Homo sapiens: one gene and its partners. The protein of the gene in region 1 interacts with the protein of each later gene in a biochemical or structural test. Each region holds a gene or a part of one and is shown in the gene's direction. Other genes may lie near its edges. The genes, in order: AKAP10, TJP1 and TJP3.

Region 1 (3,728 bases):
CTCCCATCATGTAGACATCAGAGATTTCTTTTTTTTTTTTTTTTTTTTTTTTTTTTTTTTTTGTGACAGAGTTTTGCTCTTGTTGCCGAGGCTGGAGTGCAATGGCGTGATCTCGGCTCACCACAACCTCCACCTCCCAGGTTCAAGCAATTCTCCTGCCTCAGCCTCCCGAGTAGCTGGGATTACAGCCATGCACCACCACGCCTGGCTAATTTTGTATTTTTAGTAGAGACGGGGTTTCTCCATGTTGTGGCTGGTCTCGAACTCCTGACCTCAGGTGATCCTCCCGCCTCAGCCACCCAAAGTTCTGAAATTACAGGCGTGAGCCACCGCGCCCAGCCCAGAGATTTCTAAACAGAGTTCTAACCAGATGCTTTTCCCTGTCAGTAGAATGAGAATGAATTGGAGGTGGGAGAGACTGGCATGAGGGACACCAGTCAGCCAGTGGAATTAGCTGGTAATGTTGATAGGAGAAGAAAAAGATTCAAAGTTAGGTAGTGGTAGCAAGAATTAGAGGGAAGGTCGGATTTATGATATGTCCAAGGTTGAATTCTAAGGTGAAATTTGGTGGCAGATTTCATGTGTAAATTGGGAAGGTAGATTGAGTTTTTTTAACATGGGTTTTCTAACATGTCAATAGAGTGACTCTGCAGGGGGGCCTGACGAGAGAACAGTGCATGGGGTGATTCAACAGCCAGTTGAGCCTTCATGCAGAGCATTTAACACTGTGACTCTGTAGACTCTGGTTGGCAGTAAAATTTCATTAAACCAATATTTAAACCCTTAGGTAATAATAAAAATTGAGGGAAAAGGATCCAGGTTTTGTATTTTTTATGAATTCAGTTATTGAATTAAACAGGACCTTGCCTCAAGAAATAATCTACCAACAATTAACTTGTTTTAAAGCAAAGTTAGGAAGTGAGCATGTTCAAATTATTAAATAAAAAAGTAAGCTGTGTATTTCATTCATAGAAATAGAGGCTGGCCTACTTCGGATGATTCTCAGCATGTGATTACAGATGTGGGCTTATACATCCTAGGGAGTTAAGGCGTACTCTGGCTTGGATAGAGTAGAGCTCTTTGAAACTCTTCTCTCACCCAGCTAGTTTATATAGACTAGAGAACTAGAATGTAGCAGCATACTCTGTCTTAGAAGCCCTTTTATATAGGAGCTGGTCTGGAAGGTTTGAAAACATAACAAATGTGTTGGTGTCTCCCAATGTATTGCTAGATTCTTACCCAAGAGCATTATCCTGGTTAGGGTTTGGTTTGGTTTTGTTTTGTTTTTTAATGTTTGCCACAAACTAACACTAGATGTTAGTTCTTTCATCAAGTGAGGAGAGTAGAAGAAAAGTCCAGAACTCTGAAACACCTTTTCAAAAGTTTTTCAAGCCATGATGTTTGCAAGTTAAATGCTCTGTTATGTAAGCAATATAATCAGTTTTTATTAATGTAACATTCCTTAGTGTTTTGGGGTATCACACAAAAAAGAATATCCATATCTGGAAGCAACAGCTTTTAAATAAGAGCATTGTGGTGGTGGTGGTGATAGTGGTTTTTTTTTTTTTTTTTGAGTTGGAGTCTCGCTCTGTTGCCCAGGTTGGAGTGCAGTGGCACGATCTCAGCTCGCTTCAACCTCTGCTCCCAGGTTCAAGCAATTCTTCTGCCTCAGCCTCCTGAGTAGCTGGGATTATAGGCACCTGCTACCATGCCTGGCTGATTTTTATTATTTTAGTAGAGACAGGTTTCACCATGTTGGCCAGGCTGGTCTTGAACTCTTAACCTCAGGTGAATCACCCACCTCGGCCTCCCAAAGTGCTGGAATTACAGGCATGAACCACCATGGCCAGCCAAATAAGAGCATTTTTAATGTAAAATTATGCATGAAATGTACATTCAATTTTGTCTTTGTTTACTAGGATCCATGTTCTCACAAGCTATGAAGAAATGGGTGCAAGGAAATACTGATGAGGTAAATCCTACCTTTAGGATAAAAAGATTTCTGTTTATAAGTGCCACCCTCATGTAAGTGAGGTTTAAAATTTTCCTTTTCTTTAGGTCCCATGTTTAAGCAGCATGGCACATTTATGTTCTCTTACCCAGAATGTACCAAGAAAGGGTGGTCCCTTCTTAACATCTAACAATTGCCTGGTAGTAGCAGTGAAGGTATCTTCAGTCAGAGGCTAGGACCACTGAAGGATATACATGCATTCAAGTTTCCATCAGCCAGCAGGCATCAGTAATCAGTGTGTAGATCAAAAGCTCAAATGTTTCCTTCCCCACTGGCAGTTTTACTTCAAGTAGTGGAGGCTTGCTTTTTTAATAGTTAATTAAGTACATTGAGAGATGGGAGGTGAAAAAAGGAAAATGTTTTATTTTGACCATCTAATATGAAAGTAGTTCGGTGTTAGGTATCCAGTAGTTGACACTGGAAGACAGGGAATGACATGTTAATATTCATAGCCAGAGGGTGGCCCAGGTTTTTTCGTACATGGGAATGAAATTCTTATCCAAATAAGTAGAAATTATGTGCGTAAGCCATTTGTTAAGAGCACTGAGTATGTGCATCTCGATCCATCTAATGAATAACCATTATCACCAGTTTAAATTATTTTCTTTAGGCCCAGGAAGAGCTAGCTTGGAAGATTGCTAAAATGATAGTCAGTGACATTATGCAGCAGGCTCAGTATGATCAACCGTTAGAGAAATCTACAAAGGTAAGGATGACTTCGTTTTGTGTAAACTAAAAAGTATTATTTTCCAGGTGTAAAAATAAAAAAGAACATAAGGGGTTTCTTTGCCTTTGAAGGATTAACTGCTGTGGGGATTACCTTCTTATCATAAGCAACTAGAAAATTGACAAACTAAATGAAACAACTGTTTGCATATATTGGACAATGGGCAATACAGGGAAACCATGGAAACCAAACAGAGCCCAGTAGTCTTGCTGAACGAAAGAGTTAAATATCAAAGTTCAGGCCAGGTGCAGTGGCTCACGCCTGTAATCCCAGCACTTTGGGAGGCCAAGGCGGGTGAATCACTTGAGGTCAGGAGTTCAAGACCAGCCTGGCCAACATGGTGAAACCCTGTCTTAGCCGGGTGTGGTGGCAGGCACCTGTAATCCCAACTATTTGGGAGGCTGAGGCAGGAGAATCGCTTGAACCAGGGAGGCGGAGGTTGCAGTGAGCCGAGATCACACCACTGCACTCCAGCCTGGGCGACGAGCGAAACCCCATTTCAAAAAAAAAATCAAAGTTCAGAGAGCTCAATTTGAGTAGAAGTTGTAGGATAAGGTAGCAGAAAAGAGGAAGCTGCCCAGAAAGAAAGCCGTAGAGATATTTAGAGAGATTCCCATGGATCCTTGGCCTAGGAGTGATCTGTATATGTGTGGGGTGAAAACGCATGTGTCCAGGTAGAGAACCCCCCAGAAATTAGTAGGCTGAATGATTGCTGGAACATAGGGCTAAGAAAAGTTCATGGCCAGAAGGATCTGGCCAGAGTAGAGAGACTTAGTAATACACAAGGCATTGGGTAGTGTCTTCACAGAGGTTATGCCTTACTACTGAAGATAAATTAGTCCTAGAGTACAAGCACCTGAACCAAGTTTCAAAGCAAATTTTTAAAGGGTCAAATTACCTAACAACTGCATGCCAAAACAAAGGCCTAACCCTCTTTACAGTAACACAACAAAATTCAGCACTTCACAGTGTAAAGTTAGAATGTCTGAC
Region 2 (3,500 bases), on another chromosome or scaffold:
GGGCTGTAACGCAGTATATGTAGTACTGCTTCCCGTTTGATTTGAAGGAAAAAAAGTACAGTAGTTCCACTCCCTTTTTCCCCTCCAATCCTGGAAACAAGGTCTGGCTCTGACTTTTACTTGCTCTTTAATCTCTTTTCTGTTTAGAGACCAAATGTAAACTCTGTACAGTTCTAAGAATAAAACTGTGTATAAATATGATAGATCACCATGCTGCTAAGGAAAATGTCTTTAAAAATAATAGTTTTGGTGGAAAATTTGAAGACGTAATCCTGTTACTTGACATACCCCTGATATGATAAAAATTCACCTTACTGAAAGACCATGAGTCCAGCTGTAAATTCATGTGTAGTGCCACCCATCTGTGACTGCTCAGTCATTGCTCATTTCAGGCCTGCCTGAAAGCATTCACGTGCTCAGCATTGTGTATGACTGAGCATTATAGTAGCTGAAGACAAGCTAGTGGAATGAGCCAGTCATTTCTAATTAGCAAAGTTTTGATATGTTAAATAAAAAGATAGTTTATGTCTAGAATGATCCTCCTGGAATATTTGACTGGAACTTGCTTTGCACCTCTGAATTTTGAAAGCAAATCTTGAAAAACCTTTTTACTTTAACAACTTTTAGTCTTGTAGAAAGAAATAGACATTAGGATAGTTTACAGATTTTAAAGTTAATCCTATAAAATTGGTGTGTTGCAGTATTTCTTGCATAAGCCAGCAATAAAAATAAGACTTTTGCTCTCTCTGACCTAGAGTGCATCTTTATTTATTTATTGCAGAGAAGAGTGGCTTCAGGTTGCTCCTTTATGGGCTAGCCAGGTGCTTTATTTCCATTCCTCTTAAACAGATAAATTCTTAATAATGAGCAGTATGTGGGGAATACGTGGGTAGGGAGTTTTATCTTATATCCTAAGCATGGATGAAAATAAATGGACTCTGAATGATTGCCTTTACCACAAGAACACAGCTTTAGATCATGAGAACACCAATGTTACCAAACTTTGTACTGTAAAACACCATTTGAAATGTGATAACAAAACCCTGTCATATATGTAGTGCTCAATACTGAATCTCAGGTGGCCCTCACTTTGGGATAGATCAAGAGATAAGGTTTTATTAGTTTGTGTTGCGGATATATTTCAGTTGATATACTGAAAATACTGGGAAGTGAGTTAACTGGTGAATGATCTCAATTCTAGTTTATCATGTCCGGAAAGGAGGTAAAACAGAAGCTGATATTACTTTCTGTGGATTCTAATTAGGAACATAAGATTAGCGTATACCTGGTTTAATTAATTTTTTTTGACTTACCGAAATATTTTTTCCTTTTTAAAAAAATGTAAATTCCCAAAGACTGAAAAGTTCATTTTTCTTCTTGGTTATCTTAGGAATTTTCACGCTTTTGGAATTGTCATTATCTTGGAGATTGTACAACAGTTTCTGGTAACTGAATATCACCAGTTAAACTTAATATAAGATTAGCTCACTTAATTTAGTATGTAATTTTAAAATTCAGGAGGATACCAGTAATGACTAATTCTTTTTGTTAGCTTAACACATATTAAATGAGTACATTTTGTTTGGGATCCCGATCCTAGAAATTTACAGTTTTCAACTGCTATACGCTGTAATGATCACTTTGTGAATTGTGTAACTCATTGTTGAAGAAACAAAGGATTTGCATTGTTTACTCTTAAAAATACGAGCAAACTTATGGTCATCCTGTAATAACAGAGCATTCTTGTGTGCTTTCTTCGTTGGAGGAGGTGACAAAGTCATTTTCTAAACCTGGGCTTGCTGTTTAGCAGAGTTTCTGTATTTTTCCTTGTTAATGTTTTTAAATGTTTGAATTGAATCTGGATACATTGATGTAAGTGTTTTCTGCATATGTTTGGTATCAATATCTCAATAGGAGGGAGACATTAAGAATTATAAAGTAATTGGCTTATATGCTTAACAGCTCCTTGAATATACTGACAAGGCAAATGAACACTATACTAGCTGTTACTGTTACATTTAGGGTTCAAGAAGCTGTGAAATATGTAACAATTTGGATTCCTAAAGCGGAATTTTACATTCAGCAGATATTTGTTGGTTACCTCGTGTGTACCAATCACTGTTGTAGGTGCTGGAGATGCAGCAGTGAACACATCTCTGTACTGATAGGGCATTTTAATGGTGCGGGTAGAGAGCAGCAAATAAAATTCTGTCCATAATGATAAGTGCTAGAATCCCTAACATGCCTTTTCTGGGTCATATCCTCCCTTCTTCAAAGATTGCATGTATCTTGTCTTCTAGGTTTCTCATTTTCTAGTTTTTCTTTATAGTTACCACCTAATTATGCATTCTGAAAGCACTAGTTTTGACTCTCTGAACTTTGCGCATACAGAATCTTCTAGTGTGAATTCTGTTGTATATGGCTTCTTTTGCTCAGCATTATGTTTGTAAGATTATGTTGTGGAGAACTGTAGCTCATTAGTTTTCATTCAGTTCTTGTACTTCATGGTATTCCATTGTATGAGGACTTTATTGGTTTCGGGAGAAAATAGTTTCAGTTAGACTTCTGTGGCTTTTTGGAGAAAAATATTGTATATGTCTGTCTGAGGGGCAAGAATTAGATATGCATTATGAGGCAGTCATTGGAGTACCAACAGCTGAGCAAAAGGTAGTAAGCTTCTTTTGGTGTTCCTATGATTATCTTGAAAAATCAAGTTGGTCTTAGTTTGGAGGATATTTTATGACTAAGATGTTTGTCATACTAAAGTATGTTTTAGTAGTAAGTATTGAAGTATGTTTTAGTAGTAAGATATCCACTTACCTGACTGATCAGACCACCAAAAGCCACAATCAGGGGAAATACATGAATCTGGCAAAAATGAGTCTGCCTTTCAAAATATAATTGTGGAAGTTTTTCCTGGTAATGTCATATAAAGGTACTAAGGAAGGTTTATTTACTGATTTTTTTTTTCTAACAGTGGCAGTTATTGGAGTATTAATACTTACTGGAGTGTTAATACAGAAGTACACTATTTTGATGCTGTATCACCTATAAAAATCAAGTCAGTAGCCATGGCAAGTAGGCTTACATTTTAGTTATAAGTGTGAGAAATATGTGTCAAAACAAACAGTAGCCCCTTATATTGCATGCTGACTCTGTGACAGATACTGAGCTAAGTGTTTTATGTGCATTATCCCATTTAATCTTCACAATTCTGTTAGATACTACGATTATCTCTGTTTTTACAGGTGAAGGATCTGAGGTTAAATTTACTTGCCATAGGTAATCATACATCTACTTACATGTTCTATAAGTCATACATTCACATCCTTTTATGTTCGTGTGTTGTAAGAGAGCACCAGGGAGAAGAGTATGGGATGGTGTTAGGTAAGTCTTAGACCAGAAAAGCAGCATGAATCATGAAAGCCAGAAGAGAGGGCACTGCTCCATCAGAGCACAAGCCAGTTTGTCTAAAGGAAGCAGCTCTTGCTCAGCCCCAG
Region 3 (3,728 bases), on another chromosome or scaffold:
GAGTATCCAGGCAGCTGGGTTCTGGCGGGGGAGGGCACGTGGAGAGGAGAAACCAGGCCAGGCACAGTGACTCACACCCGTCATCCCAGCACTTTGCGAGGCTGAAGTGGGCGGATCACCTGAGTTCAGGAGTTTGAGACCAGCCTGGCCAACATGGTGAAACCCCGTCTCTACTAAAATTACAAAAATTAGCGGGATGTGGTAGCGTGTTCCTGTAATCCCAGCTACTCGGGAGGCTGAGGCAGGAGACTTGCTTGAACCCGGGAGGCAGAGGTTGCGGTGAGCCAAGATTGCGCCACTGCACTCCAGCCTGGGTGACAGAGTGAGACTCTGTCTCAAAAAGAAAGTAAGTGAGGTGAGGAGAAACCTTTGTGAGCCTGGCACTTTCCAGCTCTGTCAACACAGGGCTCGGACTTGGCAGTAGGACAGTGTCAGAGACTTGGGCCTCACTTCCCTAAGGTACTTCCTGGTCCTTCACAGGAATTCTTGGGGTCATAGTGGCCCCAGAGCCCTTTTGGAACATAAAGTCCTGGAAACCATCGAGTGTTTGAGGGTTTGATGCTTCTTGGAATTATGTTGTTAAAATGGTTCTGGGCCCCAAGTGGCTGACAGGTGATATGGCTCAGCCCAGCCCAGAATTAGGGACCACCAGGTTCAGAGAGAAAGAGCTAGAAAGAAAATATGAAATACAGACAGGAAGAGAGGGAAAGAAAAGCAGAAAGTGGGGATTTGTGGTGTGGGGAGCGAGGAGTGAGAAGATGCCAGGTGTAGCTGTAGCTTCAAGGCCGGGTGCAGTGGCTCACACCTGCAATCCCAGCACTTTGGGAGGCCGAGGTGGGCGGATTACCTGAGGTCAGGAGTTCAAAACCAGCCTGGCCAACATGGTGAAACCCCATCTCTACTAACAAATACAAAAATTAGACGGGTGTGGTGGCGGGCACCTGTAGTCCCAGCTACTAGGGAGGCTGAGGCAGAAGGATCGTTTGAAACGAGGAGGTGGAGGTTGCAGTGAGTTGAGATCATGCTACTGCAATCCAGCCTGGGCAACAGAGTGAGACTCTGTCTCAAAAAAAAAAAAAAAAATGTAGCTTCCACTCTATGATTATAGTAGGTTCTACAATTGGCTCCATTTTACAGGTGAGAAAACGGAGGCCCAGAAGGATAAATGTCTTTGTGAACCTAGGGACACCAATGAATTAGAACCAGGCCTTGTAGATCTGGAGGTTCCAGGGGCACCCCCTCCCCAGGGAGGGCTTGTTACGAGGGTCTCCCCTGCAAAGCCTCCTCCGTAAGACCCGCCCTCCTCTCTCAGGACAGGCGACCACATCGTCATGGTGAACGGGGTTTCCATGGAGAATGCCACCTCCGCGTTTGCCATTCAGATACTCAAGACCTGCACCAAGATGGCCAACATCGTGAGTAGGCAGCCCCTGGCATGGCCAGCATCTCTGACCCCAGCCTGGGTCGTGCCGCTGTGGGGGTTGTAAGCTTCTGAGAGCAAGGAGTCATCTTCTCATCTTACAGTTTGGACATTGAGGCCCAGAGAGAGACTGGTGTCCCCCAGGGCCACCCGGGGGCTGAGCAGAGCCTCCCCCAGCCCTTGCCTGTAGCTGACCCTTCCTGTCCCCTCCTCTAACAGACAGTGAAACGTCCCCGGAGGATCCACCTGCCCGCCACCAAAGCCAGCCCCTCCAGCCCAGGGCGCCAGGACTCGGATGAAGACGATGGGCCCCAGCGGGTGGAGGAGGTGGACCAGGGCCGGGGCTATGACGGCGACTCATCCAGTGGCTCCGGCCGCTCCTGGGACGAGCGCTCCCGCCGGCCGAGGCCTGGTCGCCGGGGCCGGGCCGGCAGCCATGGGCGTAGGAGCCCAGGTGGTGGCTCTGAGGCCAACGGGCTGGCCCTGGTGTCCGGCTTTAAGCGGCTGCCACGGCAGGACGTGCAGATGAAGCCTGTGAAGTCAGTGCTGGTGAAGAGGAGAGACAGCGAAGGTCAGAAGAGGCGGGAGGTCGGACACGATCAGTACTGGACACAGGGCACCGTGGTCGGATGGGCGACGGTTTCAAGTGATTCTCCTGCCTCAGCCTCCCTGGTGGCTGGGACTCCAGGCGCCCGCCACCATGCCTGGCTAATTTTTGTACTTTTGGTAGAGATGGGGCTTCACCATGTTGGCAAGGATGGTTTCGAATTCTTGACCTCAGGTGATTCACCCACCTCGGCCTCCCATAGTGCTTGCTGGGATTGTGGGCGTGAGCCACCGCGCCCAGCCTGGAAGCTACAACTACACCTGGCATCTTCTTGCTCCTCGCTCCCCCCACCACAAATCCCCACTTTCTGCTTTTCTGTCCCTTTCTGCCTGTCTGTATTTCATATATTCTCTCTAGCTCTTTCTCTCTGAACCTGGTGGTCCCTAATTCTGGGCTAGGTTGAGCCATATCACCTGTCAGCCACTTGGGGCCCAGAACCATTTTATCAACATGTCCCCGCGCTGATCCCCGGGACCTCTGTTTAGGCCACCTCACTTAGCAAGAGGGACTCAGCAGATGGGATGGAGTGAAGGACCCTGAGCTCAGAGGTGATCCTGGATGATCTGGGGGGCCCAGTGTCACCACAGGGTCCTTATAAGAGGAGGCCTGGCTGAGTGTGGTGGCTGATGCCTGTAATCCCAGCACTTTGGGAGGCCAAGGCAGGCAGATCACTTGAGGCCAGTAGTTCTAGACCAGCCTGACCACTATGATGAAACCCCATCTCTACTAGAAATACAAAAATTAGCCAGGCGTGGTGGTGTGCACCTGTAATCCCAGCTACCTGGGAGGCTGAGGCACGAGAATTGCTTAAACCCGGGAGGTAGAGGTTGCAGTGACCTGAGATTTTGCCACTGCACTCCAGCCCCGGCGATAGGAGTGAGACTCCTTCTCGAAAAAAATTAAAAAATAAAAAATAAAAATTGAAACAATGATGATGTTATGAGCAATAGAATGCCCTTAGCCTGTGCATGGCAACATCACGAGTGGCACGGTGACCTGGTGTCCCCGCCCCGTGGAGATGTCATTGACACAATCAGATCTCGGGTCCTACGGGCGACATCACTGTTCTCCTTATGATGCCATCAAGGTGTTAGGATGGGAGGGCCCGCACCTGGACTGCTTACAGCAGGAGAATGCTCCCAGGCACCCGTCTCCAGAGTCCTGCCTCAGTTTCCCTCCTCCCCCCTTACAGAGTTTGGCGTCAAGCTGGGCAGTCAGATCTTCATCAAGCACATTACAGATTCGGGCCTGGCTGCCCGGCACCGTGGGCTGCAGGAAGGAGATCTCATTCTACAGGTGAGGCCGGGCTTCTTGTCCTGAGAGCAGGGAGACAAGGCAGGGTTGGGGCGGGCAGTCCCACGGAGTCATACAGCAAGGACAGCAGAACTGGGCCCCAAAGCATTTACCTTCAGTGTTGTTGCTTGTATCTCAAAGGTTGCAGATGGCCAGGCATAAAACCCCCTTTTTCCCCAGCTACTACTAATCCACAGCCAAATGTCGGTTTCTAGTATCCCCATGGGGTTGTCTGTTTCTAATACCCTCTAGCTTTGATGTGCATCAGAGACTCATGTGGGCAGCTGACTCCTGGACCTACCCTAGGTGACTGGATGCTAATGACCCAGTCACCAGGTTTAGGGGAGCTGCCCTGCCCTAAAGGATGGTATCTTTCTGGATTCTTCCCCTGAAAGTCTGTTTCTAGTG

The links.
Region 2: the proteins of AKAP10 (region 1) and TJP1 interact in a test that uses a peptide from one of them, tested with the Homo sapiens proteins (one large-scale study listed by IntAct).
Region 3: the proteins of AKAP10 (region 1) and TJP3 interact in a test that uses a peptide from one of them, tested with the Homo sapiens proteins (one large-scale study listed by IntAct).

Annotation. Positions count from the first base shown.
Region 1 is NC_000017.11:19,908,170-19,911,897, reverse strand, and holds part of AKAP10 (A-kinase anchor protein 10, mitochondrial isoform 1 precursor), read left to right. Parts: intron 1-1,919; coding exon 1,920-1,972; intron 1,973-2,621; coding exon 2,622-2,717; intron 2,718-3,728. UniProt on the Homo sapiens protein: Differentially targeted protein that binds to type I and II regulatory subunits of protein kinase A and anchors them to the mitochondria or the plasma membrane.
Region 2 is NC_000015.10:29,812,469-29,815,968, reverse strand, and holds part of TJP1 (tight junction protein 1), read left to right. Parts: intron 1-3,500. UniProt on the Homo sapiens protein: TJP1, TJP2, and TJP3 are closely related scaffolding proteins that link tight junction (TJ) transmembrane proteins such as claudins, junctional adhesion molecules, and occludin to the actin cytoskeleton.
Region 3 is NC_000019.10:3,728,716-3,732,443, forward strand, and holds part of TJP3 (tight junction protein ZO-3), read left to right. Parts: intron 1-1,312; coding exon 1,313-1,415; intron 1,416-1,639; coding exon 1,640-1,991; intron 1,992-3,219; coding exon 3,220-3,323; intron 3,324-3,728. UniProt on the Homo sapiens protein: TJP1, TJP2, and TJP3 are closely related scaffolding proteins that link tight junction (TJ) transmembrane proteins such as claudins, junctional adhesion molecules, and occludin to the actin cytoskeleton.